2 separate regions of the Homo sapiens genome follow, and region 1 is linked to region 2. Evidence: fine-mapped expression QTL. A gene starts in region 2. The other region holds a variant in brackets. All regions are shown on one strand. Distances are between the middles of the regions. Region 1 overlaps MICALL2 (MICAL like 2). Region 2 holds the start of ELFN1 (extracellular leucine rich repeat and fibronectin type III domain containing 1).

The links. PIP is the estimated chance that this variant, and not a neighbour inherited with it, causes the effect.
Region 1: its variant is the best candidate, but not a certain one, in a credible set for the expression of ELFN1 in unexposed skin (GTEx, PIP 0.90).

The regions. Positions count from the first base shown.
Region 1 is chr7:1,438,479-1,453,040 of GRCh38, forward strand. MICALL2 (MICAL like 2) reads right to left here. Exons shown (of 17, transcript NM_182924.4): 2 at 11,762-11,810; 3 at 10,142-10,283; 4 at 9,097-9,287; 5 at 8,235-8,350; 6 at 6,174-6,950; 7 at 3,714-4,006; 8 at 2,113-2,206; 9 at 1,447-1,607; 10 at 362-517. Among named protein-coding and RNA genes, the nearest start is that of MICALL2, 14 kb to the right of the region's middle. RefSeq lists enhancers at 8,375-8,879, 13,335-13,886. The variant G/A (reference allele first, on the strand shown) is at 5,591.
Region 2 is chr7:1,662,578-1,677,139 of GRCh38, forward strand. ELFN1 (extracellular leucine rich repeat and fibronectin type III domain containing 1) reads left to right here and starts at 7,700. Exons shown (of 4, transcript NM_001128636.4): 1 at 7,700-7,777. RefSeq lists enhancers at 6,424-7,131, 7,132-7,838, 7,839-8,545, 8,546-9,252.

The DNA.
Region 1 (14,562 bases), 220 kb before region 2:
CCACACGCCCACTGGACTGCCCTGACCCAGCCCCACAGACACCTGAGTGGCCTCCAGGCCCAGCCCCACCCTGCACCCTGCCCTCCTCCAGGTCAGCAACACCCCAGCCACCCCAGTCCCTCAAGCTGCCAGAAGCAGACATTCCATCATCACCATGAGTCTGTAACAAGGTACTCTGAAACAGCTAGGGTCTCTATTCATGAGGGCGGGCCTGGGGCACGGGGCTGGGTCCTTCCTCCAGGCTTTCCCTCCATTCTAGGTCCTGTGAATGCATCCTCCAAAGCCCCAGCAGGCATTGCCTCCTCAGAGGAAGGCTCCCTTCACGTACACCCCAAACAGCAGCGGTGTCTCTGGGGCTGACCTGGTTTGCCCTGAAGGTGAGGTTTCTTCTCCTCCTCCTTCCAGCTCTGCACTCGGGCTTCCTGGCCAGGGGGCTCCGGCCGAAGCCAGTTGTCACAAACGTCGAGGCTGGCAGGGACGGCCAGTCTCCTGCGGCGGGGTGGGGAGGGGGACCTGGCTGCCCCCAGGTGGGGAGACAGAGCCACGCTTCAGAGCAGGGCCACTGGGAGCCTGGGGTCTGTCCCAGCACAGCCAACAGCTCGCTGGGTAGCCCGGCCATCCCCATGCCCTGGGCCTCCCGACTGGCACAGGGTTGGCATCACAAGCCCTACACCCACGTCCTGCCCAACCTGGCCATGTCTCCCCAGGGGGCTAACCCACGGGGCTGCTGGCTGCTCAAGGTCACACAGGAAGTGGCACGAGAGCTGGATATGGATCCAGGGCAGCTATGAGTGCTAGGAATACACACAGAGATGTGTGTGCACACACACGCATCACACACGAACACGGGTGCACACGTGGACACACATGCATCACATTCATGAAACAGATCCACACATGGGTACATGCACCACATACATGAACACGGTTGCACACACATGCATCACACAGATGTACACATGGACACACATGCATCGCACATGAACACAGATGTACACATGGACACATGCATCACGTGTGGGCACACATGCATCACATACACGAACACAGACACATGGACACGCATCACACATGTACACATGCATCACACGCATGAACACTGATGTACACATGAATACACATGCATCACACATCACATACATGAACAGACACATGGACATGCATCACGTGCACATGCATCACACACATGAACACAGATGTACACATGCGCACACATGCATCACGCATGGATACAGGCATCACATACATGAACACATGCACACATGCATCACACACATGCACACATGTACACACAAGCCTGCCCAGGACTACCAGCTTCTCTGGCTGACCGGAGCGCCTCTCCGCACACCCCAGGAGGTGGCACTACAGGTCCAGTCCCGGGGCCCCCACCCAAGGGGGAGGGCCAGCTAGGCAACCCGGGGGCCCCTGGGTCCCGTCCAGGAGTACCTGGGAGGCTGGGTCCTGGGCTGGCTGGGCGTGGGGTCCTGTCAGGCCTCACGGGGGTCAGGGTGATGTGGACACTCCCAGCAAAGCTGCCTGAGACCTTCCTGGGGGCCTCCCCCGCCCTCGGCTCTGCCAGGGCCCGTGGTTCCTTGGGCTTCAGAGTCCTGGGCAGAAGGCATGAGGTCGGAACCCGAACCACCAGCCCCAGGGCCTGGCCCACCTGGAGGGGCTCCCAGGCCATATGCAGACCAGCCGGAGGGAGCAGGTGGCCTTCTGAGCAAATGCCACCTCCCAGCCCACTGACTACACCTGCTGGGACCCTCCTGCAAACACACGTGTCCATCGCTACCTGCCGTGGTGCGAAGCAGATTCCAGGCGTGAGCTCCGGGCCCCACGGGACCCACACATGGGGAGACTCCACCCCAGCTGCAGGCATGGTGCGTGAACCCACACGGGTGCTGCCATGCCCAGGTGAGACACGCAACGCTGCCCCCAAACCAGGGACAGCGGCCCCCATGTCCCTCAGGCAGGGGTGACCTGGCCTCTGCTACTCACAGGGAGGTGCGTCTATCCCTGGATAGGCGTGTCAATCGGTCGATTACATACTCACTGCATTTATTAAGCACCTATGGTGTACCAGGCCCTGGGCCAGCCCCACCCATCCCTAACCTCTCAGCTGGGCTTCTCCTGTCCACGGGCTTCAGATTCGCTCTCCATCCTGCCGGCCCGTCCTCCTGGCCTTCCTGGAGGCTGGTGCTCATGTCTGGGTGGGAGGCAAGGGGTCTGGGTGTGAGGAAGGAGTGCTGGGAATGGGGTGTCTGCAAGGGTGGCTGTGCCTCCCCCTGCCATCTTCCCATAGCCACTCCACCCTCAGACACCCCCACAGCCAGCCGGCCGGGGGGCATCAGGAGCACCGGGCAGGGAGTCAGGGGAGGGGCTCCCAGCTGGCTCTCCTGTGCTGTGTGTCCCTGGGGGAAGCTCTCCCTGCCTCTGGGCCTCAACTTCCCCTTCTGCCGAATGGGTGGGGACGTGGCAGGGTGAGCCCCGTGGACCCTGATCCTCTGTCCACCTGTGCAAGGGGAACACCTGAGCCACGGCTGCCCGTCTGCAGGCTTTCTTGGCTCCTGGGTCCTGCAGGATCCAGCGCGTGGCTTTAACAATGAGAACTCAGCCAAAGAGAAGGATCTGGAAAAACCCTTTGCAGCCCAGCTTGTTCCCTGAGCCCAGCTCGATAAAGCCATGGGAACCTCTAGCTTTTTTCTACACACACCCAGGTGGCAGGGACAGCCAGTTTCCTGCAGTGGGGCGAGGCGGGGGGACTCGGCTGCCCCCAGGTTGGGAGACAGAGCCGTGCATCAAAGCAGGGCCGCCAGGAGCCTGGGGTCTGTCCTGGCACAGCTGACAGCTCACTGCGTAGCCTGGCCATCCCAGTGCCCTGGGCCTCCCAGCTGGCACAGGGTTGGCCTCACAAGCCCTAAGCCCACGTCCTGCCCAGCCTGGCCATGATCACCCAGGGGGCTAACCCCTGGTGGGTGACAGCCAGTTGCCTAGAAGAAAGCTCGCTCCCTGTTCCCGAAAACACGTGAGGCCATAAAACAGGACTGTGTGGTCCAGGGAGCCCCCAGGAAGAGCTCCCAGCCTAGGAGGCACCAGAGCCCTCAGGTCATAGGGCATCGTCACCAGACCACCACCGGGGGGGACGGAGCACAGGGCGCTCTCACCTGGACACCACCAGGGGGACAGGGCATACTGGGACACCAGCGGAGGGGACGGGGCATAGGGCACCGTCACCGGGACACCACAGGGGGGACGGGGCATAGGGCACCATCTCCGGTATGTGGTGACACAGGGTGCCACAGCAACAGCGCGACGTTGTCAAAGCGACAGGCAGGAAGCGCAAAACACCACGGGAGAACAGGAGGCCCCACAGACCACGGCCAAGCCAGGCCACTGCTAGCCACAGGATGTAACTGCCAGACCGAGCTGAGCGGGACGCTGCAGGGCTGGGCTGCAGGCACCTGCAGGACGTGCGGATGGGGTGGGCTGGGTGCCGGCAAACAGCATAGCCCTGAGGACATTTGCAGCCACCACACAGAGAGCGCACCAGGACCCCAGGAGGCTGCGAGCAGGTGTCACGGAGGACAGAGATGAGACGGAGAGGAAGGCGGGCGGGGCTGATGATGAAACCGCACACACTGCAGAGTGCGGCCAGGGGAGAGTCCCAGAGCTGCGGGCCCCCGGGGCCTCCTGCCTCCCAGCCCCTTACTCACCCTGCGTTAAGGTGGTGCTTTTACCCTTTGCCATCGGGGCCTCTGGCTTCGGCCTGGAGCCAGCACCCACCCTGCCGACCCCTGAGGATTCCGCCAAGTTCCTCCTGCCTGCCGGGGGCAACGCGGATGCCTGAGAGGTACTGCTCGTGCTCAGCGGGGCTGGCGGTTCCATCCTCGAAGGGAGGCCAAGCACCCGGGGAGACGAGGACTGTAACGGCTTGGCTAAGGGACTTGCTTGTGGTGCTTCAGTTTTGGGCTGAGAACTGGGAACAGCGGCAGTGGCTGGGGAGGGCCTATAAGTAAAAGCGCAGGCATCAGGCACAGCTGGATCCAGGCGCCCTCCCACCATCACCCGAGGCCGCCCCTCTGCCTCCCTGCAGCTCACTCCCAATGCCCAGCCTCCGGACGGACTCCCACCATCACCCCAGGCCACCCTCCACCTCCCCCACCATTGCGCCAGGCCACCCCTCCGCCTCCCCCACCATTGCACCAGGCTGCCCCTCTGCCTCCCTGCAGCTCGCTCCCAATGACCACCCTGGCAAGGCACAGGCCACAGACACCTGTTTCTGGCATGAGCATATGCTGTGGTTGATTCTCCTCCCCTGTGAAATCCAGTGTTGGCTGAGATTAAAATATCCACCCCCTAAACACACCACCCACCCAGGCTGGAGGCACCTGGGGCTTTGTCAGAGGCTGGGCCGGCCTGGGCTGCCAGGTTCAGTCCCATGTGACACAGTCTCTCTGGCCCCGCCAGACACACAGACACAGGGCCAGACACAAGGCCTCCGTGCCTTCCTGCCTTCCCTCAGGCACACACCAGGAGTGAGGCTGCCAGAGCCTGAGGTGGGGGCACCAGGTGCCTCCCCACCCCCGAGCCAGTGCCTCCATGTCCCCACCCCCCTCGACAACCAGTTTCCCTCCCCCCTTTCCCTTTACACTGGGCTCAGGTGTGCCAGGCCAGCTTCCCCAGAGGAGCTGGGGTCCTCCCCAGCCACACATGCCCCCCGCCCCACCACCTAGGAAGCACTCCCTGGAGCACCCCCGCCACTCATCCTCAGTCCCTAGGATGCCCTGGACACCCCCCAGTGCCAGGAGGAGCAGAGCGAACTCGCTCTTCTCCTGTCTGTGACCACCCCGGAGGCTCTGAGCACCCCCTGCTGACCACTGCGGGGGCAGGAGGCAGTTCTGAGCAGGGGACGCCTGCACCCCACGATACGGGGCAGGAAACGGCGTTGTCAGCCAGGCTGCGACAAGCATTCTTACTCGCTAAGTGACTGTACTTGGTCGAATGGTGACCCCTAAAAGTCATGTCCACTGGGAAGCTCAGAGTGTGACCTTATCTGTAAACCATCTTGGCAGTTATGATCATGTTAAGATGCACTCACGCTGGGTTAGGGTGGACCCTAGTCCAACAACCATGTCCTTAGAAGAGACAGAAGAGGAGAAGACAGACAGAGAGAAGGCCACATGGAAACGGAGGCAGAGACTGGAGGGAGGCGACCACAAGCCAAGAACGCTCAGAGCCGCTGGGAGCTGGAAGAGACAAGGACAGGTCCACCCCTAGTGCCCTGCAAGGGGACGCGGCCCTTCCCCCGCCTCAAGGTCAGACTTCTGGCCTGCAGAGCTGTGAGGGGGTGGATTTCTACTGTGTAAGCCGCCCAGTGAGGGGGTCTTTGGAAACTGATGCAGCGCCCCCCTCTACCCGTCCACGTCATCTGCTCAGGGTCCAGGCACAGGCAGGCGCCGGGCCCAGGCATGGAAGGTCAGGGCCTGGCTGGACTCAGTCAGACAAGGTGATGCTCAGCCCAGCCAGCGTGGGTCCCGCTCGCGACCTGTCCCCGCGTCCACTCAGACCCGCCAGCGTGGGTCCCGCTCGC[G/A]ACCTGTCCCCGCGTCCACTCAGACCCGCCAGCGTGGGTCCCGCTCGCGACCTGTCCCCGCGTCCACTCAGACCCGCCAGCGTGGGTCCCGCTCGCGACCTGTCCCCGCGTCCACTCAGACCCGCCAGCGTGGGTCCCGCTCGCGACCTGTCCCCGCGTCCACTCAGACCCGCCAGCGTGGGTCCCGCTCGCGGCCTGTCCCCGCGTCCACTCAGACCCGCCAGCGTGGGTCCCGCTCGCGACCTGTCCCCGCGTCCATGAAATGGGCGTAGGACCCTTGGGTTCCAAGGGAGTGCAGCACAGGGGGCCCCGGAGCGGCAGCGCCACCGCACCCATGACGCCCCGAGCACATGCGGACAGCAGCTTTTCCATAAGGACCCGGCTTCCACCACCCTGACCACAGGCACTGCCACCCTGGCTCCTCCTCCCCATTCCCCAGAGAAGGAAACAGGCTGGGGGAAGTGCAGTCCCCAAGGCCACACAGCCAGGGAGGTGCAGCGCCCCCAACCCCTCTGGCCTCCGGGGCCCCGCTGGCTGGTGCAAAGAGGCCATACCCGGGGTCCCTCGGTCCCCACGCGCTCACCTGCCAGGCGCCGGAGCGCCAGCCTCTTCCAGCGCTGAGAGGGCCTGCTTGAGGAAGTTCCGCGCCTGCTCCTTGCTGCTGTCCTTGGATAGAACAAGTGACGGGGTGGGACCTCTGCCAGAAAGGCTGGTGCCGGGGGGCACTGCTGATGTTTGGAAAAACTTATTCCGGGCCTGCTGGGTCCTGGAGGCGGACGGGGTCCAGGCTGGGGGGTCCACCGTGGCTGCAGATGTGGAGCTTGAACTGAGTGTGGTTTGAGGAGCTGCCACTCGGGGGGCTCCCCCACCCTGGGGTGTGGCCGGGCGAGGGTCTGGGGCACTCGGGGGCACGGCGGGATGGGAGGCAGCCGCTGCTGTGCACGGGGCAGCTGACGACCAGCCCATCGGGGAGCTATTGGTCACACGAGGGCGGACTTTCCCCTCCGTGGGAGTGGGGGCCAGGCGGCTCTCAGAGGGCCTGGCTGGGCTCCTCACGTGGACGGACGTGGCGCTGGTGGCTGCAGGGTTGGGTGCAGCTGGAACGGAAGCCCTGGCAGGCGAGTTGCCCGCAGCAGGCTCCCAGGCCGACGGTCTGGCCTTGTTTGCCTCCTGGGCCTTCTGTGGGGAACAGGAGGTCCTGGAATCCACACCCATGGCCCCTGGCTGTCGGGGGACCAGACCCGTCAACTTGGGGCTTGCAGAGGCGGCTGCGGGGAGGTGGCTGGTGCAGACGAAGGTGCCCGGCTCTCCTGTGGCCTTGTAGGCCCCCGAGTGCAGCGTGCAGGAGCACTGCTTACACCTGGGGGAGGAAAGGCACAGGAGCCCCAGCTCGGCACCGCCCACCCCGCCACGCATTCACCACGTGCTCCTGATAGCAGGCATTGCGGACTCCTGTGTCCACTTGCGAGGTTGCTGAACGCCCGCCCCGCCACGCATTCACCACGTGCTCCTGAGAGCAGGCATTGCGGACTCCTGTGTTCCACTCACGAGGTCGCTGATTCATTCAACAAACGCCTCTTCTCAGGGTCCTTAACCACTTACATCACAAACCCCACCAAAAACCTCGTTTGGGGTGCAAACCCCAGAGGGTGCTTGTGCAGGTCAGCAGACACACACCCACAGGCCACCCCAGGCCCCACCTCGGGGCTGACCCACCCTGGCCTCACAGCGTGGGGGATGGAACTGGGAGGACCGGCCCACCCCAGCCTTGCAGAGCTGGGGACAGAAGTAGGGGGAACAGCGCTTGTTTCCTAGGAGCCCCCACCCGGGGTGCAGGGTGGCAGCAAGGGGCTGGGGATGGCCACTGAGTACAACACCAGTGGGAAGGGCTGAGGCACAGAAGGGAGACTGAGGCAGTGTGTGTGGAAGGACAGTCGGGAGGGCATCTTGACGGGGGCACTGGAGGAGGCATCTGGACGGGGGCACTGGGGGACACTGGGGCTTAGTGAGGGGCATCAGGTCCTGGGTGTCTGGGAACAGTAGAACATCTTGGGCTATCAGCAACAGAGCGGGGGGTGGGGAAGAGGGTGAGGAGGCGGAGCAGTAGGGAGAGAAGAGTGAAGAGGGAGAGGAGGGGGGAGGAGGGAGAGGAGGGGGGAGGAGGGAGAGGAGGGGGGAGGAGGGAGAGGAGGGGGGAGGAGGGAGAGAAGGGGGGAGGAGGGGGAAAAAGGGGGAGGAGGCGGAGCAGTAGGGAGAGAAGAGTGAAGAGGGAGAGGAGGGGGGAGGAGGGAGAGGAGGGGGGAGGAGGAAGAGAAGGGGGGAGGAGGGGGAAAAAGGGGGAGGAGGCGGACCATTAGGGAGAGAAGAGTGAAGAGGGAGAGGAGGGGGGAGGAGGGGGAGGATAGAGAGGAGAAGGAAGGGAGGATGGGAAGGAAAGTGAAAGGGAGAAGAGGGAGAAGGGGAGGAGAGGGGAGGAGGCGGGAGGAGGGGAGACGGGGAGGGGGAGGGGGGAGGAGGGGAGAGGGGAGAGGGGAGAGGAACGAGGAGCGGGGAGGAGGAGGCCGGGTGGGAGGCGATGGGAGCTGTGGGAGGGTTCTGGGAGGGGAGGTGCACACTCAGGCGTGCGGGCAGAGGGCAGCCCCACCTGAAGCAGCTCCGGTGGTAAAGCCTCCCGTCGGCCAGGTGCCGCTGTACCAGGTGCACGTGCTTGCCGCAGACCCCGCAGGTGCTGCTGACCAAGCTGCCCGCCAATGCCTGGTCCTGGGGAAGATGCCAGCACCTCTCTGAGCAGCCGTCCACCCAGCCCTCCCTCCTGGTGGCAGCCCACAGGTGGCCGGAAGAGCCCATCTTACAGATGGAGAACTGGCCAGGAGAGGAGCCGCCAGCAGGGCTGCGGTCGGGGTCACACCCAGGTGGGTGGCAGCCCCAGTCCAGGGCCTCTAGCCCAGCCCTGGGGAGAGAGCTGAGGCCCGATGCTAGTGGTCCTTCGGTGGCTGGGGGCCAGGGGACAGATTCCAGGCCTCCTCCTGCCCCATTAGGGGCATGGATCCCATCCAATTCCCACCATCCCGGGAGCCTGGAGTGGCAGTCCAGGCATAGCAGGGGCTGCCAACCACCAGATATTTGCCCACCGCCTTCCACCCCAACTCCGCTTCTGAGAAGTGGGGGTGCCTGGGTTCACTCTGCAGAGCCGGCCTTGGGTACAGGGCATAGCCCAGCAACCCTTCTCTCCCCGGGAGAGAGGTATCCTGGGCCCATCTAGGTTCAAGCTCTGTCCCACCTTTGTGCTCTCCCATCTGTACAAAGTGGGATCACAACCCCTGGCTTGATGGAGCCCTGGAGAGCCCGGTCCTGGCGGCTCTTGCTAAGGCTGAGCCCTGGACTGGGGGAGCCGCACCCCACTCTGGGTCCCGTGGCTTAGGGGCCGCACGTAGTCCCACAAGCCCCTTCTGCACCCCCCGGTGGAAAACCCAGAGAACCAGGGGGAGGGTGGGGTGGGAGCTTACAGTCTTGGGGGGCGGGCCCCCTGCACCCTCATTCCTCCTCTGGACCACAGGGTTTGTCTGGGCTGGAGATAGTGGAGGCTTCCGGGCTGGGGCGGGCGAGGGCAGCTTGGCCGCCTGGACTGGAGCCTTCTTCCCTGACGGCTCCTCCTCAGAGTCCTCCGAGGCCCTCTTCACGCCTGCCATGCCCCCAACTGGAGGAATCAAGCAGGGATCGGGAGGGTCCCAGGCCTGGCTCTGAAAGGGTCTAGTCCCTCCAGAGGTCCCAGTGCCCAGCACAGGCCTTGGTGCCCGGGGGGGACCTGGGGGCCCAGGGCTGGGGAGAGGTAACCCTGAGGGCACTTTTTCTGGCACAGCCCCGGGTCGGTCCCCACTCCTTCCCTCCCCACTCAGAGCCCCAGCTGGAGTCAGGGAAAAGGGACTTTTCTGTTTCTCCAGCAGGCAGGGCAGGCCCTGTGCCCGGAATGGTTCTGGGGATTTCTAAACCCTAGAAGAGGAATGTGGGGGTGGGGGGGTGGGGAGCTGAGCTCTACACACACAAAGGCCGGGCCTGTCCCTCCCCTGCCCAGTTCTATCCGGGGGCCCCACCCTGCCAGGCCAGCCTGGCTTCCATAGGGTCCAAAATCAGGACAGATGAAGGTAGGCCCAGGAGCTGCCCCTGGTCAGCCAAGCCACCCCAGTGGGCACAGAAGCTCAGGGGTCCAGATGGGCAAACTGAGGCCCATGAGGGGCAGGGCGGCAGGAGCTGCTGGTGCACCTGGCACCTTGGGGAAGCAGCGGGGGCAGCTCTCCTGCAGCAGGATGAGGGCCCCGGTCCCTCTTGGTGAAGACACAGCCTGGGGCTTTGCATGGGGCCGGGGTTGGGGATGGGGCGCCCACCAAGGCCTCTTGCTGCTTCACAGCCAGTGCACAGCCCCGGTGCCCATGCCAGGGGCCATTCTTGGGGGGGGGGCTGGGCATGGACCCCAAAAAGTCCACAGGCCTGGGAGCCAGGCCAAGGATGGGGGGCCTGGTCCTGCCTGGCTCGGCGGGCGCGGCAGGGACTCACTGGGGGAGCGGCCGTGGAAGTAGTTGTAATACTGGGACACGTAGGTCAAGATGCTCAGCCGGTCAGGCACCTTCAAGGCCACCATGTCCTCGGCATCCAGCAAGGCTGGGATGCCCAAGTGCTCCTCGGCCACGCGGAAGGCCTGCGAAAGGTGGGAGGGGGTCAGCGGGGCAGCTGGGAGCCCCCTCCTTCTCCACCAGGCCGCAGCTCACCTCGACTCAAAGACACAGTCTTGGAGCCCAAAGAGGCGTGGGTTGGAGGCCGGAGCTGAGTTCTGCTCGCGTGGCCTCCCGGCCTCAGCTTACCCATCATTGCAGCGGGGATCACGGTCCCATCTGCACAGGACTGAGGTCACCAGGCCGGTGGGCGCTCAAGGCCCCGTCCAGGTGAAACCTCAGGGGATCCTACCCTTCACCGGGAGAATCCCAGGCCCCACCCAACCCAGACTTACGCAGTCTTGAAACAGCTCCCTCCAGAGGCAGGGCTGACATTGCTGAGCCCTCCCCGGGGGCCAGAAGGGACACACAGGTCGCCATGTCAGGGCTCCCAGGCAACAGGTGAGGGCCGCTAGAGGCTGAGACAGGGACTCGACAGCCCACGCCGTCCAGCCCAGCAGCCGCCGGCCAGGCATGGCTGTGAGCATGGGAAGTGTGGCCGGCACACTTGAGGAACTGGACTTGTTTATTTATTTATTTTTATTTATTATTATGTTTTTGGAGACAGAGTCTCACTCTGTTGTCCAGGCTGGAGCGCAGCGTCAGCTCACTGCAACCTCCACCTTCCGGATTCAAGCAATTCTCCTGCCTCAGCCTCCTGAATAGCTGGGATTACAGGTGCGCACCACCACGCCCCACTAATTTTTGGTATTTTTAGTAGAGACGAGGTTTCACCATGAACTTGTAATTTTAGTTCATTTTAATTAAGTTAAAGCTTAAGTTCAAATTGTCCCCGTGCTGAGCAGGGCAGTGCCGGCCGGGCAGGTATGACTGTCTTCAGTGCTGACCACTGTCCCCGCTGAAGGCCAGCTCCGGGGGCAGGGACGTGGCCGGGGCCTGCCTGGCACAGCACAGGACATGCCTGCAGGGCGCGTGGTGAGTCTGCCGGTGCCTCTGCCCACGAGGGAGCGTGGTGCTTATTCTGCAGCAGGCAAACTGAGGCTGCACACAGGGAAGGGCCTGGAAGCTGGGGTGAGCAGGGCAGGACTGGAATCCTGGCAGGGCCGGAAGGCAGGTCCCATGTGGTGGGAGTGGCAGCAGGCCCACTGGGACCCATCCACAGCCCCCCACAGCCACCCCCAGACCCTTGTTCTGCCTGAGGCAGACTGGGCTGAGCCCCCTTGCAGTGAAGTAGGGTCCCCAGCCACCTCCTGGCACCTTGCTCCCCAGCTCAGGAAAAGAGGGGACCAGTATGCCCTGGGTGCCAAGATAAGAGGCTATTTCTAGAACGCTAGGGTCACCCAGCCCAGGACGCGTTGCCGGGCTGGTCAGGGAGCCCCCGATTCCCAGGCAGGACTCCCAAGGCAGGTGCAGGGCCTGGGGGGAGTCCCTCGGTCCCTCGGACGTGGGTGGGGCTCAGCAGGCTGGCTAAGCCAGCTGTGAGGCCGGGGCGGGGGCCACTCACCAGTTTATTGTTTTCATAAATATTTTCCTTCTTGAGAGCACTGAAGTTTCTGGAAGATAAAAACATGATGTCCAAAGCAGCTCAGAGTCCACGAAGGGAGGGGCTGGAGGGCCTCAGAGGTCATCTTGCCCAAACAGAGAAACCGAGGCCAGGATGGGGGGCTGTGAAGGAATGAGGTGGCACAGGACCACAGGTGGGCAGAGGCCAGGGCTCCCGGCCCTGCTCCGGCCACGGTGATGCTGCTGGGACCGTAGTACGACATCAGACGGCCCCAGCTTCACCTCCTGTACCCTGACAGGCCGCCCCTCACCAGTGCTCCTGCCACAGTCAGAGGTGGCAGGAAGCAGGCCTGGGAGGTGAGGTCACCAGCCCAGGGCGGTTCAGCACAGCTCAGCTCGGAGGGGGCTCTTCCCATCACAACGCTTGGTGACCAGGTGGGTCGCAGAGGCCTGATGCCCCCAGAGGACCACAGGGAACGGAGGAGAGAGGCTCCCAGGGCAGGGGACGGCACCATATGCAGAGAGGGCCAGCCACGCTGCCCCCGAGGGCAGGACAGGCCCCGGATCCACCTCGTCCCACACATCATCGCTTCTGTTGTTGGAAGGGTGACTTCTGTTCACCCTGCAGTGAAGGGTGTCCTTCTCAGCGCTTCACAAATACCAACCTAAGGCTCACACCCGACCTGTGGAGCAGACACCGGTTATGTCTGCATCTCACAGAGACAGCGGCTCGGGGACCTGCCCCAGGTCACACAGCGGGGAGACAGCTGCCAAGCCCACTGAGGTTACATGGTTCTCTCTTTGGGTGGTGGAGTGCCTTCCCAGGTGCTCAGCGAGGGCCCAGCCTCACCCCTGACTCGCACACTACACCACAGGGATGCAAGGGTCCCGGGAAGTTCCCGAGGTGAGGTCCCCGGCCAGCCTGGACAGCAGGGCCCTTCTGGGGACGCCAAGAGGACAGCCCCACGTGACCTCCAGCTGGTCCTGGGACTCCTGATGGGCACCTTGGGAGGATACCCTGGGCAGAAAACACACCAAGATCCCAGGAGGCCCCAGCCCAGCCCCAGGCCCTCCGACAAAAACCACCAGGCTCCCAGCACGGGCTGCGGCTTCTGGGAGGGAGGGTTGGTTAAATCATGATCTGGAAGCCGGGTGCAGTGGCTCACACCTGTAGTCCCAGCTACTCAGGAGGCCAAGGCAGAAGGATTGCTTGAGCCCAGGAATTCGAGATCAGCCTGGGTAACACACTGAGACCCCGTCTCAGAAAAACAAAAATATAGTGATCGTGACCCGTCTGTCCACGTTGCTGCCTGTGGGGTCCCGGACAGCAGCTGCTGCCATGTCAGCGTGAACTGGACTGTTCTAGAAGCTTCCTGGCCCCACAGAGGGAGCTGGGGCTGCAAGCCGTGTCCTGCCTCACCCCGGCCTGCATGTCTGACCCCGGCCAGCCTCGGTCTCAGGGCCTCAGTCTCCCTGTCTGGGAGGACAACCGCAGCTCCTGGTGGCGAATCTGACGGCCGTAGCTGCAGCAAACAGGAAGGCTGGGCAGGTCTCAAACGGAGAAGTGGGGGCCGAGACCCCTGTGGCCACGCAGCCTGGGCGGCCTAGTTCTGAGCCCAGCCTGCACAGCCCTTGCCAGGCCCTGACCCCCATAAGAATGCTCCGAGGCCCGGACAGTGAGCCCATTTCACCTGTTTCACAGATGGGGAAACTGAGGCCAGGCAGCAGCCACACGGTGGGGTGGGGGCAGTGGGATGGGGGCTGCAGGCTGCCCACCTCTCTCCTTAGGAAGCCCCCGCCCCGTCCGCCTGCAGCCCTGCCGTCCATCAATCTGCTGGGATCCTTGGGAACCCTCCACCGTTTCCAGCTTGGACCCCCTCCCAGGTAACAGGTTTCAGACGGCAGGACCACCCGTCTGCACAGGCGGAGCTTCTGCACGCCGGACAAGATGGGGCGCGGACTCCTCTCCGTGTGGACAGATGACGAGGAGCCCCCTCCCTGGGCTCAGTGGCAGCGAAAGCGGTTTCCGTCTGCTCGGGCCTGGGCCGATGCCTCTGTCTGCCTGGGCTTGTCCCCCGAGAGGGTGTGACCCGAGGGCACGTGGGTGGCTGTCTATGCCCAGGGACTCTGCAGCCATGCTGGGCGTCAGCCTCAGCCCCCAGGGCTTAGGAGCCGGCTCTCCCTCCCTCTCTCCCCGCCCCCAGCCCTTTGAAAGCTCAAGCTCTTCTGCAGACCTTCCCTAGGGTCACTGACCAAAGCGGCCATGTCCCCGGAAAGAATGCCCGGACGGCCGGGAGGGCAGTGTCACAAGTCTGTTTTTTCTCTAAACAAGCAGGAGGAGGAGGCTGTCTGCCTCCCGCACTTGTTTCCGTCCACCCCAGGGGCCAGCAGCGGCTCTGTCCAGTGGGTTTCCCTGCAGGGCCATCTCACCCCCAGACCCACAGTCAGGCTCTCAGAGCTCCAGGCAGATCAGAGCACCCCAGGCCCTCTGGACACACCAGAGCCAGTGCCCACACGGCACAGGTCTGGGCTGCGAGTTCAAGCATCGCGGCCTCAGGATGAGGTTCAAGCTGCATTCGGGGCGTTTGAGGCCTATTCAACTGGGCTGCACCACCCCGGCCGGTCCCACAGCCACCACCCATCCTGCCCCAAGCTCCTTCCCCAGGGCCGGCCCTCCAGCCTCCAGACCATGGCTCCACTCTCCCGGCACAGAACAGCTTTTCCCACACTCCGCCCGATGCACCCGCCAGGCCCTCCCCAGATGCACCTTGCTGTCCCCGAGCTCACACCCCCGGGGCCCCT
Region 2 (14,562 bases):
CTTTTTTTGTTTTTGAGACAGTCTTGCTCTGTTGCCCATGCTGGAGTGCAGTGGTGCGATCATAGCTCACTGCAACCTCCACTTCCTGGGCTCAAGTGATCCTCCTACCTCAGCCTCCTGAATAGCTGGGACCATAGGCACACACCACCACACCCAGCTAATTTTTTATTTTTTGTAGACAGGGTCTCACTATGTTGCCCAGGCAGGTCTTAAACTGGGCCGTTTTCTTCTGAACGAGGACGTTTTGTACATCAGAAGGACCTGCTAAGCCCTGGATCTAGCAACGGTGCCCAGGTGGGTGGGGGTGCACCCACCATCCCTAGCTCTGTCCTAGGTCCTGGCCCAGCTGACTCATCTCTGGAAAGACAGGCTGTCTGATGGACCGGGCCATCGCTGCTGCGTCTGGGCTGCTGCCGGGCAGTGGCAGCACCTCAGAAAGGAGGCCTGAGCGAGCACGTGTGTGTGGAGCGACTGTGCGTGAACGCATGTGCATATGCAGATGGGAACATGCTTAGTACAGCTGCCTTCAAGTTTGACCATCTGGATTCAAACCCTGGCTTGGCCATTTCCAGTTTATGGTGACCCTGGCCAAGGTACTTGATCTCTGGACCCCTCGATGTTACCCTCTGGGAACTGGAGATCTTCACAGCTGGTTCACTTCTAGGGTTGCTGTGAGGACTAAATGACTTCATGCCAGCCACCAGCCATTAGGAACCTCCATCACAGGAAGGATCGTCATAGTGCCACACCAGTGTGCGTGCCTGCGTGTGAGGGTTACACTGGGTGGGGCGGGGTGTGTGCGATTCGGGGGTGTGTGAAGCAGGATGCCTTTGCAACTCTCTGCACAACCACAGTGTGAGCTATGGGGTGGGGGGGGTTCCAGCCTTCCTGTCCCAGTGAGGCTGCGGCATCTTCCTGTGGGACACCGGCTTGCGGCGGGGAGCTGGGGTGGGTATCCACACGCATCTTCCCTGGATGTGCTGTAAGGTGTCTACACCACACAGGCTGCCTCTGGGTACCTCTGTCTGCTGGGGGAGGGGGATCAGGAGGAGATGAATGTCAGAGAGAAAGAGACCAAGACGGAGAAAGAAAAGGAGAGAGGAGAGGCGGAAAGGGAGAGGGGAGAAGAGGAGGAAGAGGAAGAGGGAAAGAGACAGAAAAGGAGGGTGGAGGGAGAGAGAGAGAGGAAGAGGGAGAGAGAGAACAAACATATTCTCTGACAGAGGCAAACAGAGGCGGGGAGAGAGAGCTCCAGAAGAGGCCAGAGACAGCCAGCCTTCCTCCCACCTCCTCTCTTCGGGTCTGTCCTGGGGTGGCCCATTCCCAGCCTGAGGGGGGACAGCAGCCCGAGGCCAGCCAGGCCCCGCGGGGGCCCTGCCTTCTCACGGGACAGGAGGGCATATTTCAGCATTGGAAGGCGCTGCAGAGGGAGTCAGTCAGGGCTGAAATTCCTCAGCGCCCTGGAAGGTCCGCGGGACAGCTCCCTTCTCCCAGCTTCCTCCAAGGAGCCAGGTCCGGGACTCTCCAGGCCCCTCGAGTAGGGGAGGGGGGAAGTGAGAGAAAGGGGCTGTGTGCGCACCTAGGCCACTGCGCGCTTCAGAGCAGCCGGGACCCTCCCTGAGGGACCAGGAAGAGACCCCCCCCAGGCCGGGCTCGGCCCGCTCTGTCTCCCTGTTCCCTGGAGGTCTGGGCGCCCCCGCGCAGGGACTAAGGGCTGGACAGCCGCAGGCAGGGGCTCCGTCCTTGGCCTCCACCCTTCGTGTCCAGCAATCCCGGGAGCAGGCGGCGGCACTTCCTCCATGCCCCGGCCTCAATCACGGTCTCAGTCCCCCCAACCCCGTCCTGCAGGAACAAGTGTGGTAGAGGCTCGGGGTCGGAGGGCGGGCGGCCGTCCCGCGGGCTGGACGGAGTTTCTGGGCTGCGGAGAGGCCGTTGGACCCACGTCCGGACAGGAGCCCCGCGCGCCCATCCCCGGCCCGGCCATCCTCGGGGCGCGCTGTCTGCGGCCTCCCGCGCCACCCCCACCCCTGTCCCGGGACCTCCTCCGGGAAAGACACCCGGGGAGCAGCCCCCTCCCCTCCAGTAGTCCCCTCCCCTCCCCTCTCCCTGCCCTCTTGACGGTGTGGGGCTCCCCGGCCGGAGGGGCGCGGCGCTGGCAGCGGGGTCCAGAGTGTCGCGCCCAGCGCGCGCTGGGGGTCCCGGGCTCCGCAGCTCCGCACGCGGCCGGTTTGTGAAGCGGCGCGCGGGGGCTTAGCCGGGCGAGGGCGCTCTTGAGCCTGGTTTGGAATTTTTAGCCCACACGAAAGCCGCAGGCTGGGGAAGGGGCGGGTGGGAGCGGGAGACGCCCTGGGAAGCCGTGAGACCGCTCGGCGAGGGCTCGGGACCACCAGGGAGCGACGGGGGACCCCTCGGCTCAGAGCCCGAGGGCGCGATTTCGGATCCGCTGGGATTCCGGAGGCACATGAAGGGAGAGGGAAATCCGCTAAACCGAACCTTCCGGGAATCGGAAGGCGCCGGGCCGCTCCCACGCCTCCCCCTCCTCCCGGCCGAAAGGCGGGGGGCGACGCGCAACGGGGAGGGAAGGGAGGGAGGGGTCGGCGACCTTAGGGGAGGGCGAGTCTCTGGGGACGCGGGGCCGCCAGGGGCCCGACGACCCTCTCGCTCCACCTCCCCGCCCCCAAGTGCCCCGCTCTCCCCCCGCCCCGCAAACGCGCGTCCTGCGGGCTGTGCTTTGGCCCTCGCGGACGCGCGCGCTCACAGAGGGTCTGACTTGGGGTCAACTTCCACGAGGTTGCCGGGCGCCTGTGAGCACAGCCGTGTCCCCACCCAGGGGCCCACCTCCCAGCGCCACCAGGGTCCCGACCCCCAGACCTTCGGACGCTTCTCTTCCAAACCGAAGCCTGGGAGCCTCTGGGTGGCCTGGGGCGGGGGCAGGGGGCGAGCGGGGCGGGCCAGGAGGAGGGGGCGAGGCCGCCACTCGGCTTCCCACGCCGCCCCCGCGGCTGGCTCCAACTTCCCCTCCGGAGCCCCCCTCCGGCCACCCCCCAGCCCACCGACGTGCGGGCAGCGACCCCGCCCCCCGCCCCTCCGGTCGCCCCCGCCGCGGCCCCCGCCCCCTCCCCATCCCTCCCCGCGCGCTCTCCCACATGAAACCTTCCATCACGCTCAGAAAGAATGTGCTACAACCTCGGCGCTGCCGCGGCCGCCACCACTGCGCCCGCGCCCGAGCCCGAGTCGGAGCCGGAGCCGCCGCTCCCCCGCCTGCCCGGCCAGCCCCGGGCTCCGAGCGCGCGGTCCCCGCCGCCGCCGCCCCGCGCTCGCCCCGCGCTTGACGCAGTGAGCGCCGCAGCCTGGCTCCCGCCGGCTCCGCTGGGCTCCGGGTCGCAGGCCGAGTCCAGCCGGGCGGGCTCCGGGAGGGGCCGGCAGGGCGGGAGGGGGAGGAGGGCTGTCTGGAGCCAGCGAGCCCGGAGGAGGAAGAGGAGGAGGAAGGAGGGGAAGCCGCCGCCGCCGCCGCCGCGCTCGGGGAACCGGGGTGCGCGCGCTCTGCTCGCCCGCGACAGTGCCTCCAGCCCGGGGCCCGCACCCCGGCCCAGGTAAGAAGGGGCCTGAGGGGCAGGGGGCTGTCCGGGGCCGGGGGACCCCTCTGTCGCCGCTGCGGGATCGGAGGGTCCCCGCCCCTAGGGGAGGCAGGGAAGAGGATGCTCTCTGGGGGGGGCGGCGGGGGGCAGCGCAGGGTCCCCAGCGGCTCTCGCAGCCCGGGCCACCCCATCCCTGGTGCCCTGACCTCGGCGTCCGCGCCAGGGCCGAGTCTCCCCGCCCGCGGGGCTCTGGATGCGGCGCTCGGGGCCCGCGGCTCCCGGGCGTCCCCATCCACCCACCCAGGTTCGGAGGCGGGCGCACCCGAAGTTAGCGGCCGCCGAGCCTGGGCCGGACAAACTTCCCTCCCCGACGCCGCGGCTGGAAGGGCCAGGACTCCGGACCCCTAGGGCTAGGGAGGCGCCGCGGGGACCCCGAAACTTTCCGGAGCGCGCTGAGAGCAAAAAGCCGGCTGGGCAGAAAGAGGGGGAGGGGGCTGGGCGCGCCTTCGAGTGCGCTGGGGTAGCCGCGGCGCCCCAAGTTGAACCACAGACGAACCCCTCTTCATCTGAAACCTGGTCTCGGAGTCGGAGGTGGGGAGGGAGTGGGCTGTGGGTGCCTCGACTTCGCAAAGCCGGCGTGGGGGGGCGCAGCGCCCCGCCCCGCGCCGCTTGAACCTCCGGAGGGGGTGTTACGGGACCCCCGCCCCCACCCCAGCCGGTGGCTGGGCTCTGCCGACCGCTGCGGAGCTCCCGGGAAGGACCCGCTCGCGGCTATTAATAGGCGTCGGTGACCCTAGCCTCTCCCGGTCCGGGAAGCTGGCGCGGCGGGGCTGGGCTGGGCTGGGCTGCCGAGTGGGGCGGGACCCCGGGGCCCAGAGCGGACCCCCAGCTCTCCTGGTCCCTCTTCCGCCGCTCTTCCCTCCCTGCCGCCTGCTTTCCTCCCATTTTCCCTCTTCGATCTCGGGGTGTCGGCCCCCCCCCGAACTTTTTCTCTTCCCAAACTGCACGGTGGCCACCCGGTCACGGCCCTGGGCCGTACCCGCGCAATCTCAGCACCATTCCCGACCGAGTCCTCCGCCGCGGGCTGAGCGCGAGTCCCCGGGGCCAGGCTGCCCAGGGAGGAGCAGGGACTTCCTACAATCCGCGCCCTTCCTCCCAACCCACGGCGAGCGCAACACATTCGCCCGCCCCTGCGGCCCCATCTGAGGGCGGGGAGAGGTCGCTGGGGGCAGCTTCGGGGGTTGTGGAGGGCAGGGGGGACCCGCGAAGCTCCTGGAGCGTTTAGGGATGCAGCTCGGGCGGCGTGTGCAGGGAGGAAGCAGCGTCCCGGCGTCCCCCCTTCAGCGTCGCCTTCGCGCGCCTCGAGGGCCCAGGAGGGTTCGGTCTCCCCCACCCCACCTGGACACTCAGGTCTGAGCCTGAGTGGATTTGAGGATCTGGGGGACGGGGAATACGGAGTCCTTCTTCCTGCCTCGGTGTCTGCAGAGCCCAGCCCTCAGGCAGCGTGGGGATCTTTGTCCCCAGGGCCAGCGCCGGCCCCGCCCCCCGCCCCGTTAACTCCGGGACTCCGCCGCCCTCCAGGTTCCAACCTCCCAGCTTCACCGCCGCGTCCTCTCCCCGGTTCTGGGTCTGGGGGAGGGGCAGGGGGCGTGGAGCGCGGCGTTGGGCCCCGGACAGATGTCCTCGCGGCGGCGGCGCCGGCGTCCGGGTAACAGCAGGCCGCCAATCGGCGCGGCCACGGGGGAGGGGCGACCCGGCCGGGACTCCGGGGACTCGGTCGCAGCCGGACGGCGCAGCCTCCGCTCGGGGTGGGGGGGGGGGGCGGCCGCGAGGACTCGACCCCTGCCGTGCAGCCCGGCCTCCAGTCCTCTGCCGTCCCCTCCCCCAGCTCCAGGTTTCGCTCTCTGCTGGGGTCCTGGCTCCTCAGGTTGCGGGATCTCGCCTCCCACGGCCCCGCGCGCGTACCCCTACCCGCCCCTCAAGTTGACCTCTGAGGTTCTCCGTGGATCTCAGACCCCGAGTGACCGCAGAACTGACCTCTGGGGTCAGGCAGTACCGGTCAAGGGCGCTCTGAAGAGGCCCTCGGCCTCAGTTTGCACCCCGAGGAAATGGACTCATCATGCCTGCTCCTGGGAAGTAGCAGGACGTCCTGGCGCGGCTCCTCCGGGCAGGCGCCCAGCACAGCGCAGGGCACACGGGGGACACCTGCGAAGGCAAAGGAGGCTCATTCCAGAGCTTCGGCTGCACTTGGCCAGCACAGGCCTGGGGGAACCTGCTGGAAATGGGGATCCAGTACCTCTCTTGGGGTTTATGTTTGGCAGGCGGAGTGGATAGGCTGGGGCCCGGAGCCCGGTGGTCATCTTCTGCACAAGGCTGGCCAGGCCAGAAGCTGGAGGGTAGCTTACTGGGACCTTCCAAGCGTGACCAAGGAAGCTCTGGGGGCCGACCAGCTTCTCCCTAGTGGAGCTGCAGCTGGGGAGACCTCACAGACAGGCAGGGAGGAGAGGGTGCCCCGCTCACCGCCGGCCTCGTTCCACAGGCCCAGGCCTGGCACATCCCAGGCTTGCAGTATCTATCTGGTGGGTAAACAAGGACCTGCTCTTGGCCTGCGGCCTGGCTCTGACCGTGGTCCAGGTCGGGGCAGAGGGAGAAAGGCCACAGCTTAGGTGTTCCAAACCACCGGTGCCCTTCCTGCCGGCCCCTGGGGCTGTGCTGGGTTTCCAGGGCCCCTGCCCCCCAGTATTTGCATGAAATCGTGGGGGCGCACTGGCTTTCGTCCTAGCACTCCCCTTCAAGGCTCTGCACCCCTATCACGGGAGCCCCACCCAGCCAGCCGAAGGAGGCCACAAGCTCTAAATTACTAAATTCGGGCCAGTGCTGGGGGCCTGGGAGCCAAGGCAGCTCAGAGCCCACTCTCCGATTCTGGCTCCTGGAGAACCCTAGGACCCGGGCGTGTCAGGCCCTGCAGCCGGGCTAGGCCGGTCCATACAGGACTGAACGGCGTCGTGGGCGTTCATTCACATTCCCTCTCCGGTCCCCACACACTATAGGATTTATCTTGATTTGCTGCCTTTGAATTGAGTCAACTCTTTTGTATGCTCGTTGAATTGCCCAGCTGCTGGCGGCGAGCGGAGAGCGTGCCGGGGGTACTGAGGCCGGGAACCAGAGGCGGGCGGGGGACAGGAAGCGGGGAGGGGGCGCCGGCGGGGACGCGCGGGCTGCGCGGGGACTGGAGAGGGTCCCCAGGCGCCGGCCGTTCTGCGAACGCGGGCTTGTCCAGGCACCGCCGGGGCCTGCCCGGCCCGAGCGTGGAGTCCCGAGGCTCCTGCCGGGGGTCCAGGCTGCCCCTGGGGCTCTGCCTTCGACGCGCTGTGTAGGGCCAGATTCTGGGCCTCTCTTGACTCAGTTTCCCTTCCTGTAACATGCGGACGGGGGCTTCCGCACAGGCAGGTTGTCAGGGTGAAACTGAGCCGAAGAGTGCTCCAGAACCCCCTGAAGTCCTCACAGAGGTTGGGGTGAATGAAGGAAGGAAGCGGGGCCAGGGCTGGGCAGAGGAGGCCCGGCCTGCGCCCTGCGTTCTCCGCCCCTAGGTCCCTGCCCTCCCGGATAAGGGGCGGACCGACGGGAGGACCTGAGAACGCCTTGGCTTTGCTTGAGGTGGTGGGAGTCGCGGGTAGCTTGTTCAGCCAACAGCTGTCGCCCCCACTCCCCCCACCCACCCACCCACCCCCTCCACCTTTTAGATGTGGGCGGGGAGGGCCGGGGACGGACCGCGAGGACGCCCCCTGCGCTTTCTAGGACCTCCCCTCCTTCCCCAGCCCCTGCGCGTCGCCGGGAGAGGGAAGGAGCGGGTTGCCGCGGGGAGCCGAGGAGAGCAGGGGGCTCGGGAGGCCAGGGAGAGAAGGGGAGGGCCAGAGGCTCCGAGCCGGACTCGCGGCGGAGGAAGAGGGGGTGGAAGGGAGCGCGCAGGCGGGCGAGGGAGCGAGGGAGGGAGAGAAGGAGGGAGGGAGGGAGGGAAGGGGGGCGGGAGGGGGCAGGGCGAGCTTGAATTCCCCCCCGGCCGCGCGGCGAGGGGCGGGGCCGCGCGCGCAGATCGATGGGCGAAGCTGGGGAGGAATTTCAATCCCGGGAGCGAAGTTAGAGCTTGAAGGACGGCGGCGGCTGCGGGCGCAGCCCCGGAACCGAGGCCGGGCGGGCAGGTAAGCGGCGAGCGCGGCCGGGCGCTGAACCTGGGGGACTTGGGACCCGGACCACCCCCGGGGAGCGGCGCGGCCAAGCCCCCCGCCACCTCGAACCCCGGGCGTCCCCGAGTGCGCAGCGTGCGCCCCCAGCCCCTGCTGCGCCCCCAGGCCTGGCGCGCGATCCGAGCGCAGCGGGCAAAGTTGGAGGAACTTGGCGGCGGCGGAGCGGGCGCAGGCTCAGCCCGACAAAGCCCGGGGGCCCGGGTCGGGGTCGCTGCCGCAGCCCGCACGCTGCCCCGTGCCTCCGAGAGGTCCCTTCCCCAGCGCCTCTCTCCCTTCCGTCCCCCTTCGCCGTCCGCACCCTGCCCGGCGCCCCCCAGACGCGGCCCCCTGCCCTTCCCTTCCCGGAAATTAGGGGGCTGTCCTCACCTCCTGGCCGAGTCGCTGACCCCTCCCCAGGCTCGCATCGCCCTCCCTGCTGGGCCGCCCTCCCCCCGACGCTGCGAGCCTCCTCGCTCCGCGCGGGGACCGTCCAGTCACGCACGGGGAGGGGTCACATTCCTCGGTCCCAGCCCCTGAGTCCAACCACTGGCGGGGGGGTGGGGTGGGGGGCTTCGCTCCGAACTGAACTTACTGGGTGCTTTCCACCCCTCGCCCCACCTGGAGTCCATCCTCGTCCTCGTCCCTCTGGGGGCTGGGAGGAGGCTGCCAAGCCTCCGTGCCCCAACCTGCCTCTAAAGACAAGCGCCCCCATTTCCATCCTTTGAAACCTGCAGGTCACCTGCTTGATGCTGAGGGTGGGGCGGGGGGCACTGCCTGCCGTACCGCACACCGCCCCCCCCCCCATAAAAACGACACCCTCTGAGATGAAAATCCGGCTTTTCCAGGTCTCAGCTGTGTGACCTTGGGGCAGGTGAATCTCAGAGCCTCAGTTTCCACACCTGTGAAATGGGGCTAGGATGATCATGCCTTCTGAAAAAAACGAAGGCTTAGCAGAAAGGGTCGAGGCCGGCCGAGCCAGGTGTGCACGTCCTCAAAAAGCCTCCGTGCCAGCACTTTCCCTTCCTGCACACCCGGAGTGGGGCCTCTTTGGACCCTGGCTTGGGCTGGCTGCCTCTGCCGCTCATTCCCTCGATTGGGCTAAGGGCTGTGCGGAGAGCCTGGGGACAGAAGCTGTGGAGGGACCGGGAGCCAGGAGCAGATGTAAATGGCAAATCTCCCCATATTGCCTCTCTCAGGGGCTGCCCCCTAGAGAGGCCCCCAGCCTCCAAAGAGGTCCAGCTTGCACCCAGCCTTGGGGGAAACCCCATTGGGTTGGGCATAGGTTGCTTGAAAAGCATCAACATGCTCCTCTTCTCTGCCTGGCTGGCCCCCTGGCCTCCTGCCCCCTGGGTCCCTGCCCCTGCCACCTTTTAATTGAACAAGCATTGAGAAGACTGGCTTACAGGTCCCAGCCCAGGTTTGCGCCCCACTCCACCAAAGCAGGGGGACAAACTCCAGGGGGCCGTGTGTGGGAGGGGGTCACCCCCTCACCTGGATTTGAGGGGGTTTGGAGCCCAGCCAGGACCCCAGCACTTGGGTCCCTCATTTTCCTGGGCATACGGTGGTCAGGGAGTTCTGATCCCCACCCCTAGTGGGCAGAAGACCTGGGGGTCTCCAAGTCAGAGATTGGGGGCCATGCCCCTCCCCCTGTCCTACAGCCAGCTGTGCAGCCCCCTCCTCCTCGGCCGCAGCAGGACTGCTGTGTGCGTATAATTCAGGATGATACAGCAGGCTCGGCAGGCAGCTCCCGACTCCCAGAAAAGCCAGTGGGCACCTGAACCAGAGCCACACTCCTGAGGCCTGGTAAGTCTGGGGTAAGGGTGCAGGGATGTGGTGGGCACCTGCACCCAGGACCAGAGGAGGGGAGGGAGGGCGGCGTCCCTTCCCCACCATGCCCCAGGACTGCCACTGGAAAGCACTGATTTTTCAAAGTGTCTTTGGAGGCAGGCTCCCCACACCTGGGCCAGGGAGAGGCTGCTGCTCCTCCACCTCCCTACCACGGTCCCCACCAAGAAACAGGTGTCCGGGGTCCCAGCAAGCGCCCAGGGCCAGAGCCTGGAGTAGTTGCCTGTCTCGGACCCCGGCATTTGAATATTTTCACCCTAAATGTATACTTGTAGGCTTCACCTGCTCTCCAGGAGAGAAAAATTAATGGGACTAAAATATGACCACAGTGCCTGAGATCAATGGGGTAAAATCGGAGTGGCTGCCTGGGTCCCATGTTGGTGACTTTCTCTATCTGTTTCCAACACACACGCATCAGCTCTAGATTTTGATAGAATTTTCTAAGCACTCAGGAAAGCCTCCTTCTAAGGTCCCCCTGAGGTCAGAGCCCCCACCCCAGGATCCCTTCCCCCCCGACAAGCCAATTCCCCATTTTGGTAGGGGACTGTGTTTCTCCGTGCCAGACTCAGACACCATCGCATTGGAGGAAATTTATGAGCAGAGGTGCATGGACTTGGGGTGTTCATATATCTTCACAAGAAAGAAACAGGCAGGCCCTCGAGATGCCCGGGTGGGTGGTGCATAAATACACGAGGGGGCCGGTGGCGGGGCGGGGGGCAGGATTAAAAATGCAAGTGAGTGACAGGCGAGAGATAGATAGATCTCCAGGGCTGGGTGATGAGGCCATAAATTTCCAGGCGTGAACCTGGAGCGGATGGTGGCACCGCCGCGGACATTGGATACATTTGTCATCTCTCCAGCGCCCCCCCCCGCTCTTTCCTTTTTGTTTTTGTTGTGGATTTGGTTTCTTCCAGCACAAGCTCAGGTGTCAAGTGGCCTTGGGTGGGTGTTTGTGGGGGTGGCTGGTGGTGGAGCCACTGCAGTGGACGATGGCGCCATCCATTCCAGCACCAGCTGTACAGATGGGGAGACTGAGGCCCGGATTGGGGTGGGGCCGGAGAGGGTGGTGGAGGGGTCCTATGTCTGGCGTCTGTGTCCTGTTGTGTTGGTTCAGGTCAGGGGATTCCAGCAGGGTGGGAGGCCTTGGTCGTTGGGGGCTGCTGCCTCCCTTCACCCCTGTGCACCCTGAGCCAGTCAGTGGCACCGACAGTAAACAGGAAGCAGGGTGGCAGCTATGGGCACTCGAGCCCAGCACCGTGCCCCCCCTCCCCGCCCCCTGCCCCGGATGTCCCTTTCCCAAGGCTGGTGGATTGAGACCTGGTTCTGTCCCACCTCTTCCAGCCTCCTGGGGAGGGAGGGCGGGAGGTGAGAGACCACCCTGGGAGCGCTGATGGCAGACAAGGGCCAACTGTGTGCCCTACCTGGAGCCTGGGACAAAGCCCAGAGGAGCCTGGCTGCCTTGGAGCTGGCATCCCCAGATGGAAAGACAATGGTCTCACAAATAAATGTGCCTCCTTTCCCTCGGAGATCAGCCGGTCCAGCCCCTGAAGATGGTCCAGCCGGTCCATTTTCCAGAAGGGTCCAGCATCGCCCGAGGTCACACAGCAAGTAAGCTGGAGCTGTGGCTGGACCAGGCCTCCACACCTGTAGAGCTGTCCTGGGGCAGCTGGGGTCTTGGTCTTGGAGAAGAGCTGGAACCCAGGCTGAGGCAGGAGGGGGTCCAGCAGGGCTTGAGGGACCTTCAGAGGGGAGGCAGAGAGGACGACTACTCCGCTCCCTGCTCCAGGCCACGGGGGTACACAGGAGCTGGTGGGGAAACTGAGTCAGGCGGCGAGGACCACTGCTCTGCTCCCTGCTCCGGGCCGTGAGGGGTGCACAGGAGCCAGTGGGGAAACTGAGTCAGGCAGAGAGGACCACTCCTCTGCTCCCTGCTCTGGGCCATGAGGGGTGCCCAGGAGCCGGTGGGGAAACTGAGGCAGAGAGGACCACTCCTCCGCTCCCTGCTCCGGGCCATGGGGGTGCACAGGAGCCAGTGGGGAAACTGAGCCATGGAGGCTGGTCCACACAGCTCTTCCCCACCCACATGGCTAGGACTCCTGGGGCTGTTCTGTGGTGGGAGACCCTGGAGTCTCAGGATCTCGGTTACTCAGCCCCGGTTGCCTCCCTTCTGCCCAGCAGTTAGTTCCTCAGGACTCACGGCTTCCAGGCTCCCCTCGCCTGTGAGCCGGACCCAAGCTCCTCTTTGGGGCTGAGGAGGAGGGGTCTAGCTGGCCCCTATAGGGTGGGCAGAGTTTAGATAACCCCACAGGAAGAGGCAGGCATCCAGGCAGGAGAGGCAGCGGAAGGGAAGGTGTGAGGCCCCCAGAGCAGTGAGGGGGGTGGGGAGAGGGGCCATGACAGTGGACGGTGACCCCCCCGCCCTCGACGTCTGCCCTAATGTCTTCCTCTGCCAGTTCCAGGACAGACTCGGGCAGCCACAGTGGGAGAGACTGGTGGAAGGGACAGGGCCTTGCCTCCCTGTGTGTTGTGCCCAGTGCCCCCACATGAGGCTGGGGTATATTGGAAAACTGCACTCTGGGCTTCCGAGGGAGGGATGGGGACAGAGGAGGCACAGCCGGGCGGGAAACATCCTTCGGCCCGGGCCAGCCCAGCCATCACCAGGTCCACTGTGTTTGCTAGAGCCCCCAATTCAATCTCTGAATTTTAAAGATAGGGACACTGAGGCGCAGACAGGGCAGTGGCCGCAAGCCACTGAGGCTTGCAGGCAGTGGTATCTGGGCTCAGCCCTGCTCCCATGCTGGGCTCCCCACACCTCATATCCGGGCTCAGCTGGGAGAGTGCCCTGGCCTTACCGACGGGGACCCGGCAGCCCACGGCGTGGAGGTGAACCAGCTTGTCTGGGAAGCCACATTCCACCCCTGTGCACCCCCAGGCCCTCTGTGGCCCACTACCCCCTCTAGGACCCCACCCCACAGAAGCGCATCTCTCTGCTGTCCGCCCCACTCCAGTGGTAACTTCTGTCAGAGGGCTTGTCACAGAGTGCTGACCGCGCTGAGAGCTTCTCACCAGCGCTGGACATGTGGCCAGGTGGCGGCCGAGGGCTCGGGGGCGGGGGTCTGTCCACGTGACAGGTGCACACCCCGGCATTGCTGCCCTGACATTTGGAGGCTGTTGGGTTGGGTCCAGGCGGAATCCTTCCTGGGATGGAAACCCCGGGAGATGATTGACAGCCTGGAGGCTCCCCCGTGTTTACCGACAGATCCGAGTCTTATTTTCAGCAGGATCAAACTCAGGCACCTCTTAGTCATTAACTCTCTCTAGTTTAATAAACACAGATACAAACACAGCCAGCCATGTGCCCGCCCCACATGGATGAGAATCCCGCCCGGCTTCCTGGGGCCGAGGAGCGGGGTCTGGAAATGGGGGGGCCGTCGGGGGGCTCCCCAGACCCTCGGCCGGTGCGCAGGAGGCCCTGCAGGGAGAGGGCTTTGCAGAGCACACAGTGAGGCGTCGCTGGCCCGGAGGGACGAGTCAAGGACAGCTGTGTGCCTTCACAGTCCCGCGCTGTCGAGACACAGCCCGAAGTAGTGGCTGGGAAGGTGTCCCGGAGATACCCACAGCACAGCTGCCCCGCCAGGGCTGCATGAAGGGTTGGCCAGCGCTTGGCTCCCTCACTGCCATCTCGACCTCCACGGCCTCCCTAGAAGCCCAAGGGGCTGGGGACCCTCAGGATGTGTCTCCTGGGCGTGGACTCTGGGCTGTGCTGTGGCTCCTGCCTGGCCCCCGCACTGGTCAGAGTGCTGACCGAGGGAGGCTGCCTGGGAGGGGGACTGGGATGCTTCCCGGACATGTCTGGAAAGGTGGCAGCTGGTTCCTAGACCAGATCCCAAGGGAGATGGCATTAGCCAAGTGCCTACCTCTGCCTAAAGGGTGCTGGTAGTGGCTCCAGGGCACCCTGGAGAGGAACCCCCAGTCTGTTGTCTCCCTGCCTGAGGGGAGCCTGCACTGAGGCCTCTGCCCTCCTCACTGACAGACTGCCCCTGTGTCTGTTTGCCCCGTGGAAGCTGTGGAAGGGCCCGGCCTCTGCCCTCTTCACTGAGGGACCACCCCTGCATCTATCTGTCCTGTGGAATGGTGGAAGGGCTTGGCTGCAGATCATGGGGTGGCCCGGGCTGGGGAGCCTCTGGTGTTCGGCGTGACCTGAGGTGGGTCCCTTCCCTTCCCGGAGCCTCGGCCTCTCCTCCGTCATGTGAGGACGGGGGTGGATGGATGGCTGTGGGGAGTGTAAATGGCTGACACCAGTTCTGGAAAGGGCAGAGCCGCCACTGCTGGCAGAATCCCCCGCCCTTCTGACTTGCCCTGCATGGCCCTCAGACCTGCAGCCCTGGAACCTGGATGGGGCGCAGGTTCGGTCCCTGCGTCCCTCTGTGCCCTGCTGTGCAAAGAGACAGGGAAGGAGGATGCTGGGGAAGGGAGAGCAGGTGTAATGGCCCCGCAGCCGAGACACGCTTCGTGTGGGTGAAGGGCAAGGCCAGTGCAGCTGGCCGTGGGGGCTGAGAGGTGAGCGGGAGAGGCCCCAGGGTCCGGGCTGCTCCTGTGTCGGAGCTCTTGGGAAGAGTTGGTTGGTACTCGGATTGCTTCGGGAAGTCTCTGGGGAGTTTGCAGCAGCTGAGAGACAAGGCTGGCTTTAAAGCATCCCTCTGATGTCGACGGAGAAAGGGTTTTTAAGGGCACACGAGGGAATGAGCCACCCAGGGGACTGCCGACGTCTGAAAGCCATGAGGGTAGCCCGTACTGGGTGCCGACGCTGGCAGCGGAGAGACAGAGAGGATGTAACTTCTGTTTTGACAGTGCTTAGAAATTGGAGCTACATTCCTATAGAGAAAAATATTCTGTAAGGCAAAACCCATTTTCCT